Linked DNA regions of Homo sapiens. The protein of the gene in region 1 interacts with the protein of each later gene in a pairwise test. Each region holds a gene or a part of one and is shown in the gene's direction. Other genes may lie near its edges.

The links.
Region 2: the proteins of TRAPPC8 (region 1) and TMEM132D interact in a two-hybrid assay, tested with the Homo sapiens proteins (one large-scale study listed by BioGRID).

The regions. Positions count from the first base shown.
Region 1 is NC_000018.10:31,873,470-31,877,290, reverse strand, and holds part of TRAPPC8 (trafficking protein particle complex subunit 8), read left to right. Parts: intron 1-2,586; coding exon 2,587-2,811; intron 2,812-3,752; coding exon 3,753-3,821. UniProt on the Homo sapiens protein: Plays a role in endoplasmic reticulum to Golgi apparatus trafficking at a very early stage. Maintains together with TBC1D14 the cycling pool of ATG9 required for initiation of autophagy. Involved in collagen secretion.
Region 2 is NC_000012.12:129,074,795-129,078,615, reverse strand, and holds part of TMEM132D (transmembrane protein 132D precursor), read left to right. Parts: coding exon 1-82; intron 83-3,540; exon of another isoform or gene 3,541-3,556; coding exon 3,557-3,821. UniProt on the Homo sapiens protein: Regulate neuronals morphology via inhibition of the WAVE regulatory complex (WCR), a complex that controls F-actin cytoskeletal dynamics.

The DNA.
Region 1 (3,821 bases):
TGAAAAGTGCTTTCCCCAAGGACACGTCTGCCAGCTCCCAGCAGGGAGAACCTCTCCTGTGTTCACAACAGTGGATGGGGTGGGCGGGAAATGATCCCCTCTTCATGTTCATTTCCAGCCGCTGGGGCTGCCCACTTCAGCGATTGTTGCTTGCTTGCATTACCTTTGTCTCAAGGTGGGGCTTTGGCAGGCTACTGTCCCCCCTTCCCCTAGGGGCAGCCTAAATTAACGGTTACATCTCCATGGGTCTCACACCTTCTCTGGGGACCCACTGGTCTCCTAAACTTGCTAATGTCACAGCAGTTGTGAATATGTTAGGGATCTGGTGGTGCGGTGGTGACTCAAGAGCAGAGATTTCCTGGGCAGGGCAGTGGTATCTCCTGTCTCAGTTCAGGCCTGAAAGGAGGGCGGGCATGCCTGTGTGAGCTGGCCACCCACATCCTTGTCCCTGGGACGTTCTCAAACTGCCACTGTTAGTGTTGTCCTGCATCATGAGGGCAGAGGGACTCCCCATCAGTTGGATGGTGAACAGATGGTCAGAGGGGTGAGGGCAGCAGAGAAGTACTCCCACTTACCCTTTCCATGGGGTTTTGTGTTCCTCAGCACTCGATCCCTGCCAAACTCTTGTTGTTTTTCTTTCCTGCACTCTAGTTTCTTTCCATGGGTTCTTCATCATATCCTGGCTGTCTTTTCTCAGTTTTCTGTTTGGATAATTAGTTACTTTGATCTTTCTGAGGAGAACTGGCATCTGAGGATCTGAGGTCCCTAGTAAGTGATCTTTTTTTTTTTTTTTTTTTTTTTGAGATGGAGTCTCGCAGTGTAGCCCAGGCTGGAGTGCAGTGGCACAATCTTGGCTTACTGTAAGCTCCGCCTCCTAGGTTTATGCCATTCTCTTGCCTCAGCCTCCTGAGTAGCTGGGACTTCAGGCGCCCGCCACCATGCCCGGCTAATTTTTTGTATTTTTAGTAGAGACAGTGTTTCACCATGATAGCCAGGATGGTCTCAATCTCCTGACCTCATGATCTGCCCGCCTCAGCCTTCCAAAGTGCTGGGATTACAGGCGTGAGCCACCCCTCCCGGCTGTAAGCGATCTTGAAGAAAATACTCTCCTTTTAAAAAAATTGATACATAATAAACATACATAGTTTGGGGTATAATACGTGATAATTTCATACATTCATATAATTTATAAAGATCAAGTCAGTGAACTTGGGATATCCATCACCTTAGAACCATTCAAATTCTCTATTTTGAAATGTAGAGTAGATGGTTGTAAACTATAGTCACCCTGCTGATCTGTCTAACGCTAGGTCTTATTTCTTCTATCAAACCATGTATTTGTACCCATTAATCAACTTCATTCTCTATCACCCACTCTCCCTGGCCTTTGGTAACCACCAGTCCACTCTCTATTTTCATGAAATCCACTGTTTTAGCTCCCACATATGAGTGAGAACATGCAGGATCTGTCTTTCTGTGTACCTCTTTTGATTTTTTACATTGATGATGTTTATTGCCACAAATATTGCATTCTTATTGCAATACTTGTAAGATTTTGGCATTCCTTGCAATTTTCCATTTTGAACACACATCTTGTATATCATTCTGGTATATTATTAATCTCTTGCTCTTCTTAAGTCCTGCAGTAAATGCACTGAATACCAGGAAGTATGCCCTGACACTTGCCAACAGCACCTTGAAAAGGAGGCTGTGGTAGCACCTGATGCTGGCAGAGAACCCCGTCATGTCTTGCCCAGGCAGTGTTTACTGTGCTGCTGTCCTAGCCCACTGCTTTATTTGAACCGTGTGAGGCATAACCTTTCAGTGGTCACAACACTGGCCAGTGAGTTCTGGCAGGCAGGCAGGCAGGCAGGCAGGCTGGGATCAGCATGGTTGGTCCAGTATGTGAATTTTTAATATAGAAAAAAAAAGTTTATTTATATATTATTATATATACTACTATATATATTATTATATATTATTTGTACTGTGGAAAACTGTGGCATATGTGGCCACATACATTCAATGTAAGTCTCTGATCGTAGGCAAGAAAAAACTTTGATAAATGTGTTTATTGTTTTACTTAATATGGAGAAACTCTTTGTAGACATAGCATGCTTCTAGTTAAAGTATGAGAACATTTTTTTCATCATCATATTAGTGAAATCTGACCATTTTAAATGTTGAAGTTTGTTTACATATCCCTTGCCTTTTTCCAGAAAGAATTTAAGGTAGATAAAGTCAAGTTGAGAAGTAAGCTCTTTCCTCTGAAGTTGACGTTTTGAAATTGTGGCTCAGAGAAGTAGTGGGTAAATGTCAAAGCAGTCTGGCCTCCCTTTTCTTCCTTTAGGTACCCTACTCCTATCTAACGCACACACACAATGGCTCAGGTAACTTTATCTATATCATTCCATATATAATTGTGAAGGGATTATCATAAATGTTAGTTTTATTTTCTTCATTATCCCAGTCCCCCTTAGAGGAAGAACCAGTTACTTAATTGTTTCTATGTGTGTGTTTGTATTTGTTTTTTCTAGTTCAAACAAATTTGGAGTATAATACATTATTTTGTTTATTTTCTTACAGAAAAAGCATGCTTTACGCTGTTATTGTCAAGCCATGCAAGTTTACAAAGGAAAAGGCTGGTCTCTTGCAGAGGATCACATTAATTTCACTATTGGGCGCCAGTCCTATACTCTTAGACAGCTGGATAATGCTGTGTCTGCTTTTAGGCATATTCTAATTAATGAAAGTAAACAATCTGCTGCTCAACAGGGGGCTTTCCTCAGAGAATATCTTTATGTTTACAAGGTGACTGCTTATTTTCATTCAGGAATAGATATTAAAACTGTATTTTAGTGTGAAAGTATTTATTTATTACCATATCTTACGATAGTTTTATTAGAATATATGTAGTTATCAGTCATAAAAAAGCTGTGGCAGGCTAGGCTTTTTGGCTATAGATCTTGGTTACATTGCCCCTTCCACAGTTCTTGAAAAGAGAATTTTAATATTACAATGAACACTTGATTTGTGGCTGTTCTTAGAATCTTAAAAAAAAAAAAGATTCCACAGGTTTTCTGGATTCTTTATTCATCATGCTTTTATAGACTCACAACTGATTTTACAGTTGGTTTTAAGTGGGTTCTCTTTACCATCCTTTGGAGATGGACATTCTATGTTCTTTTCCTTGTGAAAGATGAGGGGGTATGGATCTGTGGAAAGTAGACAGGCTATTATGGTGCAATGGAGAAAAATTAACAGGAAGAAGGACTGTTTCACTGAGGCAAGCAGATAAACATATAAAGCATTGTTTTATGGAAAAAATGGGAAGTTGTAAATTTTTTCCCAAGGCCTATGAATAGTGCATATTATATCTATCGTGCAGAAAATAACTACCTTTAGGGTCTAGACTTTATTAATTTGAAATTATATGGGTTAGAATTTTGGCAGATAGGATGCTATAATGAGTCATAAGAAGTAAAACGCTTACTAAAATAAGTTTTGCATATTTAACATCCAGGTAATTAGCTGAGTAACCTCAGTAAGATTCTTTTGAGGCAGAATAAATATCTGAAGTGCTTCTGAGTTGTAAAATTTTATGACTGATATGAGAAATAAAACTAGTAATTACATATCTTAATATTCTTGCTTAACATATTTTTAATGCCTTGTGTATTAAGAAACGAGGAAACAAATAAAAATACCATTTTCACAAAAACTACTTTTTTTCCCTTTTATATTTCTCTCAGAATGTAAGTCAGCTGTCACCAGATGGTCCTTTGCCACAGCTTCCTTTACCGTATATTAACAGTTCAGCA
Region 2 (3,821 bases), on another chromosome or scaffold:
CTCCTTGCAGCTCAGCCCAGGAAGCAACAGGGCCATCTTTGCCACTGCAGTGGCTCAGGAACTTCTGCAGAGGCCAAAACAGGTATGGAGGAGGGCTTGAGACACACTTCAGCAGGGTCCCTCACCAAGTGGATCACACACCAGGCAGGCACCACGCCAGGCGGGTCGCACAATAGAGTGGGATCATATATCGGGCGTTTGTTTCTCCATCTGCAAAGGGCTCTTCTGAAGCAGGTGACTCCTCTGCCTCATGTTTCCCAGCTCCCCCATGCAGAGATGAAAAAAATAAATACATATATACATAAGGATTGCAACATGTGAAAAATGAGAAGCCATTAAGGGGCAGGAGCCCTGGAGGAAAGGCCCACCCCTCATCCACCATAGTGCAAGTGCATGCAGGTGGTCACCTGTGCTCTCCACACGCTTCCTGCTTCCATGAGGGCATGAGGGCACGTGCAGGCTCAGAGCAGGTGCACAGCCTGATGCCAAGGTCCTGCTGGAGCGGAGGGTGACAGACCTGCTGAGTGGGGAGCCTGTGGCGGGAGATCGCTTCCAGACCATTCATTGTTCAGCTCAAGGCAGAAACAGAGAATTCATGGAGATGTCAGTCACAATTTTCTTTTACTTTATTTGGAACCAGTGTGAGCTAATAGAGTGTGTTTTGTGTGTTGTGTGCATATGTATATGTGTGTTGTGTGTCTATGTGTTGTGTACATATATGTTGTTTTTGTGTGTCTGTGTATGCATGTGTGTGTCTTGTGTCAGTATTTTGTGTTGCTTGTTTTGTGTTGTGTGTTGCATGTGTGCTTGTGTTGTATAGGCACCTGTATGCATGTATATATGTGTGTTGTGAATGTATCGTGTGTTGTATGTATGCATTGCATGTGTCTATTTGTTGTTTGTATGTGTGCATATGTGTGTGTGTTGTGGGTCTGTGTCATATATGTTTTTGCTTTATGTGTGTCCGTATGCATGTGTGTCTTGTGTATTTTCTGTTGTGTGTATGCTTGTGTTGTATAGGTGCCTGTGTGCATGTATATGTGTATGTGTGTTGTGTGTATGTGTGTGATGCATGTGTTTGTATGTGGATACAATGGCTTACAAAGGGGACTGTTATAGGGGACCTTTGAATGTAGTAAGTTCTCCCTCATTAGAGGTGGATAAACATTATTTCTTAGAACATAGGAATTTGGGTGAAGCTTGCTTAATAACAAAACATGGTGGTTGCAGGTCATTAGTTCTTTTGCCCCATGAAAAGGGATCATCCTCATGTGGGGCAGCTGGAATCCCTCCGGCCCATATGGGACATTGTTCTGACTGCTTCCCTTCTGGATCAGGAGCCTTTTCTGCGCACTCTTCCTCGGCAGGGTGAGGTACCAGGCCTTCCCTGCCTTCATGCACCAGCTGCGGCTGTGGCCATGTTCAGAGGAGGCAGGAGTGCCACACTGGACTTGCTAAGGGGCACAAAGAGCCTTCCCATTTTCCCAGCCTGCACCTGTCACATAATGCTCCCCTCTCAGGCATGAGCTAATCTCCTAGTCCTTATACTACAGTCTTTGTTTGCAGAGTTTTGGGTTAGAAAACACTTGAAAGTGGTTGATCCCAATAACAGAATCGAATTCTTGGCCAAAGCAAACCTCCTTTTCTCAAGGAAGGATGCCAGCCGAGAGGCAAGTTACAGATAGCAATGAAGAAATAACCTGAGGCTTTTCTCTGTCTTTGTGGGTGATAACATCAGCGGACCACCAGCTAGGCGTTAAGGAAGGGATAAGATGCAGCTAGAAGAAGGCCAGAAGGCTAATCCGTTCCTGACATGCAGAGCTAAACACGCTACCCTGAGATTTGCTCCATGGTTGGTTTGCAGGGCTCTTACTCCCTGCCTGCAACTTGGCTCTGACAGTGGTAGTTTCAAGAACTCCGTTGTGCGTTTGAATGCTCTGCTCAGATTTCATGGCCGATTGAGAGAACCTGGTAAGTCAGTGTCATGTCCAGTAGCTTTTGCACTGTGCCTTGGCAAGGTTATCCGCTTAGCAGGTAGTCCAAGCCAGTGTCTAACAGAATAAGTATTTCTTGGCTGAGCTGAAGGAAAGAGCAGAGGCCACCAGCCACATTTGAGGAGACTTTCTTCTTACTTCCAAAGACTAAACAACAACTGTGTAAAATTACTTCTGTCATGGTCAGGGGCCAGTAGGTCATAAGAGAAAAAAAAATCCACTCAAGCAAAAGCTTAAATAACAAAGGATGTGTTATGAGGATTATAGGGATCTCACAGAACCCAGCTGCAAGACCTTGGAGGAAAGGGAAGGTCAGCACTTTCATGCCCACTCTCTCTCTCACCTGTGTTTTTATTTTGGTCTAATTCATTATTGTCTTCCTATGGATAAATGCCATGCCCAAACATTTGCTTATACATAGTCCATCAGAGGGCTTCATTCCCCAATTTTATATGTGCCCCCACTACACATCTTCCCAAGCATAACTTTGTCAGTCTTGTCTTTCTGGTTTCAAGTTCGAGAGAGAGAGAGTAATGCTGGCTGGCTCAGCATTGCTGAGATTGATGGCTCTAATGGCAGCAGCTGTCTCATTTCAATCAGCTGTTGCTGTGGCCCAGCGGGCAGGGTCATGGGCCACCTAGTGCTGTTCATCATCTCGGGCTTGGGGCGGAGCAGGTTCTCTGAGAGGGAGGGAGGGAGGGAGGAAGCAATGGATCTGCCACTGCTGTCAAGCATAATGTCATCTTCACTAAAATTAAAGGCTGGCATGAAATTGGAGGTTATCTCCAATGATCTGCCTGGTCAAACTATTTGCAAAGAAAGTTGGTCTAAATCAACAAAGTGAAAACAAGCTCTGGCTGCTTTTTGGTCTTCCAGTTTCCTCCAGTTGGGTTGGGTGGAGGAAGAGATGAAGACTCTCCAATCAAGATGCTTCTCCCTCTCCTGCTGTCAGGCTTAACTCCTCCCTCCAAGCCAAGACTATGGCCTGAGGCCAGGACAGATCCACTCCTGCAGACCCAGAAAAGGCAGGGCTGGCAAAACCACAGCCTGCAGCCCTGCAGTGGGACCTCATCTAGATCAGAGGCTTTTATCTGTATTGCCAGTAATCAGTGGAGACTCAGTATTACAACTTAAAAATAATGTAATAAATATTTTTCATTTGAATGTGTAACACTTGTAAATGATTCCACTAACCAGTAATTTCCTTTGTCGTGCAATTTATTATTGTTCAGAAGTTGATTCTGAACAGCCCAAGGGCCCATCTTCCTTTTATAACAACACCTACAGGAGAAAAAAAAAAAAAGCAAATCTTCTTACGGATTGTTTAATACTGGCCCTGTTTTGTCATTTTGTTGTTGTTTTATTTTGCTTTTTTGCATCTTTGTGAGAATTCATTTTCTTTTATACTCTTGGTACTTCTTATCGCTTATTTCTACACTGTTTGAAAGGTTTGTCTTTGTTCTTGTAGCAATAGTTTTGCCGTTGTGTGTCTACTGTACTAAGACTTGGGGCTCAATGAGCTTTTTGGCCCATTTGATTAACTTACATATTTTTCTCCATAGGAAGCAGCCATCAGTTGCTGGGTCCAGTTCAGTGATGGCTCAGTCACGCCCTTGGATATTTACGATGGGAAAGACTTCTCCTTGATGGCCACATCTTTGGATGAGAAGGTAGTCTCCATCCACCAAGACCCCAAATTCAAGTGGCCTATCATTGCTGCGGAAACAGAAGGACAAGGCACCCTGGTCAAGGTGGAAATGGTTATTAGTGAATCCTGCCAGAAATCCAAGCGGAAGAGTGTGTTAGCTGTTGGAACGGCAAACATCA